2 linked regions of the Homo sapiens genome follow. The protein of the gene in region 2 interacts with the protein of the main gene of each other region in a pairwise test. Each region holds a gene or a part of one and is shown on either strand. Other genes may lie near its edges.

Region 1 (3,804 bases), on a different chromosome or scaffold from region 2:
CTGATAACTACCCATCTACTCCCTATCTTCCTGAGATCCACTTTTTTAGCCTCCGCACCATGAGTGAGAATGTGATTTTTGACTTTCTGTGCTTGGCTTATTTCACTTAACATAACGACCTCCATTTCCATCAGTGTTGCTGCAAATGACAGGAACTCATTCTTTGTGATGGTTGAATAGTACTCCATTGTGTATATGGATCACATTTTTAAAAAATCTGTTTGTCCATTAATGGGTACTTAGGTTGATTCCATGTCTTGGCTATTGGGAATAGTGCTGCAGTAAACATGAATGTGCAGATATCTCTTTGATATATTGACTTCCTTTCTTCTATATACCCAGCCCAGTAGTGGGATTGTTGGATTATATGATATTTCTATTTTTAGTGTTTTGAGGCATCTCCATATTGTTTTCCACAGTGGCTGTACTAATTTGCATTCCCACAAACAATGTACAAAGGTTCCTGAAAGGGTGAGTTTAAACAACATAACTGCAGAATCATAGTCATGTCTGACAAATAATGATATCTTGACATCCTCACATACGCACTCAGTGTTCAGATGAGCAGGGTCCAGTGAAGAGCAGCACATTCTCATGGTTGGATCTTGTTCCTCTCACAGCCTGTAGGCTTCCCTTCCTCTCTCTCATCTCTCTCTCATTTATCCATTCTATACTTGGATTTATTGTTGAAGAACTGTGTGGGGTTTCCCTGCACTTGGATTCTGCTGATGATGGACCTTTGCAAGTTGCTCTGACCTTTGCGTTTCTTGTGAGTCGGTGGATTGATCTAGAAGTGTGATCAGATTCAGGTTTGAACTTTTGGGCAAGGATGTTTTATAGGTGGTATTGCATTCTCCCGTTCAGACCCCTGCCTGGACTATACAGAGAAGTCGGTCTTTTAATTGCCTCATGTGTGTGAAGTCACCTTGGTGAGTCCCCAGCTGACCCTCGCCCATATCTTTTTCTCCTTCTGCTGGTCCGGGCTCCCCGCTTGTTCTGACATCACCCTGGCTACTCTGTGGAGAGTTGGTTCTGGGGTAGCCTGAGGAGGCAGCACTAGTAGCAGGGACACTGCTAGTATGTTGTGAGGAGGGTCCCAGTGGAGATGATGGGGCCTGATCCAGGTGGTGTCCAAGGGGTGGACAAAAGTGGGCAGATTCTGCAGCACCAGCCTCATCCTTATGAGAGAAGCTACTACCCCCTAGGCCTCTGCTTCTGTGTCTGCTTTTCCTCCCCGGATAGTGCATTTTTATATACCAGTCACATGACAAGCGTTTATTGAGTGCCTGCTGTGTACGTGGCTCTGGGAGCTTCTAGCTCTCCCCCACTGCTGTCTGTAAGTGAATGCACATGGCAGGAAGAGCAGCTCCATGATGGGCTCTGCCAGGTGGGAGCTTGGTAACTCCTGGCCTCTGAAGCCTGCCCATGAGGAGAGCCTTCATCTCCCCTGGAGAGGGAACAGCAGTTGTCTTTCTTTTGCTGCTATGTGACTGCATAAGAGCTGGGACACCAGCGCCTTCTATCCCCTCGGTCTGCCTCTGGCTGTGCTCCGGGTTACCCATACCCACCTCCCTACTTTCACCCGAGGCCCTCTGTGCTGCAGATGCCACTCACCCAGGCACAGTGCAGCCCAGAGTGCAGGGAGTACACATCTGGAGCACAGTGGCCAGTCTTCCTCAGGGGCCAGCCTGAGGCACTGTATCCCCCATCCCCTAGTCTATCAGGTGCTTGACTCTGGGAGGGGCCCCTAAGGGATTCGGGTCTCCCCAGCAGCGACCTCTGTTGTACCCTGCCTCCTACCCATGGCTGGGCGCCCGCAGCACCTGCACAGACTGGATCCACAGACACGCCTGCAAGGGAGAAGAAATAGTAGGTTACCCTGAGGAGCCATCCGTGGAGGTTGAGCGGCCTGGGCCCCCCACCCTTGCCTGGGTGTTAGAACTCCAGGTTTCCAATCTTACAGTCTCTTTTTTTTTTTTTTTTTTTTTTTTTTTTGAGACAGAGTCTCACTCTGTCGCCCAGGTTGGAGTGCAGTGATACGATCTTGGCTCATGGCAACCTGTGCCTCCCAGGTTCAAGCGATTCTTTTGCCTAAGCCTCGAGTAGCTGGGACTACAAGGCGTGTGCCACCACACCCGGCTAATTTTTGTATTTTTAGTAGAGATGAGGTTTTGCCATGTTGGCCAGGCTGGTCTTGAACTCCTGACCTTAGGTGATCTGCCCACCTCAGCCTCCCAAAGTGCTGGGATTACAGATGTGAGCCACCGCGCCCGGCCTCCCACCTTACATACACTCTGCTTTTGGTATAGACCACCGTGAAGGTTTTAGAAAGTGGTGAAGCAGCTAGAGAGTGGAGGGATGTGTGCAGAGGGCAGAGGCCTGGAATGTGGAGCACAAGGTTCCCAGGCTGAGGAAGCACCCACAGTGGGGCAGCAGAGGGGAGGCAGGAGGGCAGACTTACTTCAGAGGAGCCACAGGCATCGGAGGTGCCCGCAGAGGCCAGCGCCCACGCCTTACCAACAGGAAACCCTGCCCTGGGTCACACGGTGCGGCCTGGCAGAGCTCTGATGCGATGTCAGACTTCAGGGCTCCACCTCGGGTTTTGTTGGCAGCCTGTAGCCTCAGCCCAGTCCCATCTGCCCCTTTTTACCAAGAGGATCCAGAGGGCAGGTGGGCTACGCCCGAGCAGCCAGGGCACAAGGGGCCAAGTGGTATGGCCTCGTCCACACTGTCCAGAATCATCTCCCAGGTAGCAGTTTCCAATTCAGTTGTTAATTATGTATCAATATGTGGGAGATGAGATTCCTGGAAAGAGAAACTTGACACTAAAGAAAATGCCCTTTTTTTTTTTTCTTTTAGAGACAGGGTCTTGCTCTATTGCCCATGCTGGAGTACAGTGGAACAGTGCTAGCTCACTGCAGCCTTGAACTCCTGGGCTGAAGTGATTCTCCTGCCTCAGCCTTCTGAGTAGCTAGGACTATAGGTACACACCACCGTGCCTGGCTAATTAAAAAACAAGTTTTTTTTTAGAAAAAATTTCTGGGTTTTGCTATGTTGCCCAGGCTGGTCTTCAACTCCTCAACTGCATCAAGCAATCCTGCCTCAGCCCAGAAAATGCTTTCAAAAAATTGTTTTAAACATTTTAATTGAGGTGCAACAGACATACGAAGTGTCCATCATGTTGGTTTTGATCTGTGTGTATGCCTGGGTAACCATCACCAGGTCTGGATCTAGAACATTCCCAGGGGGTGCCTTCTGTTGGTCCTGGCACAGGTGTATGAGCTCAGCATCCACATCTCAGACTGCGCAGGTTGGGTTTGCTGTAGGCCACGTGCAGCCTCATCCCCTGCATGTGTCCCCTTGGCCAGCATGACGCAGCGCCAGCCTCAGGCCAAGCTCAGCACATGGTGGGAGGCAAGGGCGTGGAGCCCTCAGCCAGGGATGTGGGCTTTCCACAGCTCATCTCACTATTAGCCTGTTGAGGTCCCAGTAAGTGGCACAGAGAAGTCCCAGGATGGATGTGGTCAGTGGTGAGGAGGGCAATCCATGCCTGAGGGAAGGTGAGGAGTGAGTAGGTGAAAGGAGGTTAGCACCTGTACCTGGAGGAGAGAACAGCATGTGCAAAGGCCCTGGGGAGGAAGGGAAGGTGGACCATGCACCTGGATCCCAGGGAGCGATGCTCACAGTGGGATGATGGCTACAGAGGCCGGGGCCTGGCCTGGTCGGGCTTAGGACAAGAGGGCCTGGGGGGCCATGAGGAAGCTTGTCCCACTGTCTTAGGGAGATGGAGGCCTGGGTTGGGGG
Region 2 (4,424 bases):
AGCCTCCATTCCTGAGACCCAACCTTACCCCAGTCTCAGCGGCTTCCACCTTCATAATCTCCCTAGGCCACATTCACACATGCAGAGTTTAATTAACTTTATTGATATTCAGAAATTAGGAGAATGACTAAAGGTAATTGCTCATTAAAAATCATTAAACTGACACAGCAGGCTCGGCACACGCAGCCCCTTCAACACCGCTTTTTCCTCCACTGTGGCTGGATGGCCCAGGCACCCCACACAGCTTGGGAAGATACCCCGTGGCCCAAGACGCCCCTGATGCCTGACGCCAATCAAGACTTGGAGGCTGCAGAAGGGAATAGGGGACTGAGCCTGTGAGCTTGGGCCAAGCCCAGCACGATTTTGCCCTACCTCCGCAGCCTCGGCATACCAGGCCTTCCAAGGCATCTGGGCCGTGCCTGGCTACATCCTGCAGTCTGCATCCTGCCTATGAGCAAAGCTCTGAGGGCCTCATCAGAGAGGTGGCGGGGCTGAAAGGCTGAGGGATGCACCCCTCGGGCCGAAAAGGCTCATAGCCTGAGGTCTTTGCTCCTTTAGGCTCGCCTTCACAAAGCTAAAGTGCCCAGGAACCCCGGGATGGCCAAATGCGCTGCTCCCCACTGAGATGACTCACTATCCCAATGGTTGGGACCTCCAGTCCAGCCGAGGAGAGAGGAGCCTCTGGCTACCCAGCTCTGACATCCCAGCCCTCTCATCCTCAGGCTTGGCACTTCGGGGCTGCCTCTTCGTCTCCCTTGGGGAGTGAAAATAGAGGTCTTTCCCAACAGCCAGACTCCTACCCCACATATCCCACTGGCAGGTGCCTCCATGGGCACTGGAGATCCTGATAGTCAGGAAGGGACACTGCCCAGGGACACACAGACTTGAGGCCACAGAGTGAGCAGATTCCTCCTAACACTCACACCCACATCCCCATCAGGGCTGGTGGGACTCCTGGCCACACCAGCCTTCCTCCTGGATTCCCACAGTCTCACTCTAGCCCTGCAGGGAGCTCTCTGGCTGAGGCTGCACCCACACACTAGTGGCCTCACACAGTCCTCACACCCATTCACTGCTGACCCCTCACCCAAGATTCGGACCACTTGAAGTGCAGACACACTGGGACTGGCTCCTCTAGTCATGCAGGGCCCTGATTACTCTCACATTCAGACCCACAAACTCACACACAAGGCCTTGACTAACTGCCAGGGGACAGACACAGGCCCTGCGCCCCAGGGGAGCTGTCCAGCGCCAGGACCCATCAGGACCCAAGATAGGTTCGGAATTCCTAGGGACATCCCCAGGCAGCTAGGCAGGGATTCACACTTCTCCTTCCCGGTCTTCATCCCTGGGGTGGGTCTTGCAGGACTCTTCCCCTCTCCCCAGAACGTGAGCACACGGTTTCAAGTTCTGGGCGCTGCCGGAGGATCCAGCATGGGCAGCCCGGTAGCGGGGTGAGGACACTGGGCTGTGTGCAAGTGGAGCTAGAGGCTCAGAAAAAGGCTTCTGCGTCTCCGGGGCCACAGTTTTTCTTCCTGGATGAAGAAAACTGCCGTCCGGGGGCCCAGCCTGTCCCTGGCCGCGCTGCCTTGACCTCGGCAGCGGCCTGGAAAGATCGAGCAGGGAGGTTAGAAACTCCCACCCTCACACTTCACATCAGGCCCTTCAAACCATATGGCAAGGGATGGCAGGTCTCAACTCCAAGTGCGGTTCTGCCGACCCTACCAGCCTACTGCAGCGGGAGAAGGACGTGGGTGCCAGTAGCTTCCATGAGAGCTTGTTTGAGCCAGGACGGCAGGTCCAGACAAGACTCTTCCCCGAGGCACGGAACCCCTATCCTCTCCCCAACACTCCCTTGCCGCTCACACCATGGCCAAGCTTCCCTCTACCCAAGACCGACGAAGTTGGGGACCAGACTCCTAGAGGGGGCGCGGGGATTCTCAGGGTGTGGGGAACAGGTCCTCCAGAGACAAATCTGCCTTGCAGGTGGGGAGTGGACCAGGGCCGGGCAGGAAGGCAGGCCGGGAGGGAGGCAGAGCTCGGGGCAGTGGTGTGTGTGTGTGTGTGTGTGTGTGTGTGTGTGTGTGTGTACAAGGAAAGGACTTTGGGGAGGACAGAGTCTCTATCCCAGGATCTCCGCTGCTGCAGCCGAGGGCAGAGCCAGGAGCCAGATAGGGGGTCCAGGCCCTTGGAGTTTCTCTCTAGAATTGTGCTCTAGGTCCCGACTCTGGCGTGGCAGCGCCAGGGCATGGGGAGGTGAGCGAGGTCCCAACCCCGGGTCCGGCCGCCATCCGGCCCCGTCTCCCCTCAGTAAGAACACTAGAGGCCCTGGAACCGGCGGCAAAGTCGAGCGAAGTTTGGCGGGCGGCAGGGGAAGCGGGACCACGGGCCGCCAGCTGGACCGTCCCGACTCACTGCCTTGCGCCCCCCGGCACGCGCCCCAGCACCCTGAGATGCCTAGAGTGTGGCGAGGTAGCGCGCGGGTGAGCGCGTGTGTGCGGGGAGTGGGTGGCGTGATGAATTGCATCAGAGAAATCCCATTAGATCTGGGGAGATGATTAAAGACGAGGTCTCGGCCGGGCGCGAATGGCGGGAGCCGCGGCAGCTTCCCGCCCGCGAAGCCCGCGCCCCGCCCGGCTTGGCCGGCGCCGGGGGCAGCGCAGCCGGCGGGGCGCGGTGCTTGGACTGGGCAGCCAGATGCCCGAAGCTGGGCACCGGGTCTCCCTTCCCACCCCTGGGGCCCCGCTCCCGCCCCCGTCCTGCCGCCGGATGCCGGGGTCCCTTACCGTGAGCCAGGAGCGCCAGCAGCGAGGGCAGGAGCAGCAGGGCTACCGGGCGCATGGTGCTGGTTGCGGCCGCGCCCTGGGCTGGGACCGCGGCGGGAGGGCGGGGGGCTTGGTGGGGCTTGGGCGCGGGGGCAGAGCCGGGTCCGGCCGGGTAGAGGGAGCGGGGCCGCAGCCGTCACCGCCGCTGCCGCCGCCAGCGCCTGACAGAATCAGCACCACGGCCAGCGCCTGGCGACGGCGCCGGGGATCGCCGAGCGGGGCTGGGGGCGGGGGCGCGGGAGGAGCGGCTTACCGTAAAGTCTCATGCAAAGGCGCAGAGACCCAGGGGCAGGAGCCCAGGCTCCCGCTCCACCGCGACTGCCCTACTCATGTGGGCACACGGCCCCTGCCCTTCTGCGCTGCCCACCCCCAGCCAAGCATGCCACCCTCTTTCCCGTTAACGGCCTGCTAAGGAACCTCAATTAATAGCTCACTGTAGCCTTCTGATTCTCCATGAGAAAGAGCAACACTTTCCCCACCCCTCTCCACCCAATCCTGGTACCTGAGGGCGTCAAGGGTGACCTGGGAAGACATCCGAGAGTGAGGCAGCTGGTGAGGCCCGCGTGCCCTTGTGGCAGTTCCGTCTTGGGACGATAATGAAGATGGCTTTTGAGCGTACAAAGGATAATAAATTATTACTTTGCGCTCAATAAATGCCAGGGCTCCAGGCAGCTGCATCAGCAGCAAACTGTGCTCACAGAAAAGCTTAATTATCCTGATATTATAGTTAAAAGCCAGTGGCACTCGCATCCTGGGGAGACATTCTTCACTTGGCAGGAGGCAACCTGGGCCAAGCTGTGGGCAGCTGAAGGTAGTATCCTGGGTCCCCACGTAGCCCTGGGTCTCCAGGACTCTGCCTTGGCCCCTCTGCAGGACCAGAGAAGCCACAGTGACAGTCGATACAGACCCTTCATGCCATCTCTGCCCAGGTTTCTGGAATTGGTGGAGAAAATGGCATAGGCATGAGAGAGGGTTTCCTAGAGCTGTTATTTTATTTTATTTTATTATTGTTTTTAGAGACAGGGTCTCTGTTGCTTAGGCTGGAAATGCAGTGGCACAATTATATTAATAGCTCACCCAAACTCCTGGGCTCAAGAGATCCTCCCACTTCAGCCTCTCAAGTAGCTAGAACTACAGGCATGCACCCCCAAGCCTGGCTAATTTTTAAATTTTTTGCAGAGATAAGGTCTCATTATGTTGCCCAAACTGGTCTTGAAATCCTGGCCTCAAGAGATCCTCCCGCCTTGGCCTCCCAAAGTGCTGGGATTACAGGCATGAGCCACTGTGCCCTACGGCTGTTTTAGATAGAGACTTGAAGGAGGCCCAGGGGTGTAGCCTGTACTATTAAAGGCATGGAAAAATAACTTTCCAGGGCCCTGCTTGGGCTGAGGAGCCCCAGTGAGTCACAGGACAGCAAGGGGGCAGTCACAGCTGTGCCATCCTGAGGCTGCTCTTTAAAGGCAGGGGCTCATGGATGGGCTCACTTGAAGAGCTTTAATGGGTACAATGGGACAGGATCCTATGGCTGATGTTATTATTCCCTGTAGAGGAATAGGAGGGCTGAACTCCCTATTGCCCCTGGGAGAAGGGCAGTTTTTT

What was found.
Region 1: the proteins of SEZ6 (region 2) and CHDH interact in a two-hybrid assay, tested with the Homo sapiens proteins (one large-scale study listed by BioGRID and IntAct).

Annotation. Positions count from the first base shown.
Region 1 is NC_000003.12:53,836,248-53,840,051, reverse strand, and holds part of CHDH (choline dehydrogenase, mitochondrial), read left to right. Parts: intron 1-3,804.
Region 2 is NC_000017.11:29,003,029-29,007,452, forward strand, and holds the start of SEZ6 (seizure protein 6 homolog isoform 1 precursor), read right to left. Parts: upstream 3,006-4,424; 5' UTR 2,842-3,005; coding exon 2,787-2,841; intron 1-2,786. UniProt on the Homo sapiens protein: May play a role in cell-cell recognition and in neuronal membrane signaling. Seems to be important for the achievement of the necessary balance between dendrite elongation and branching during the elaboration of a complex dendritic arbor.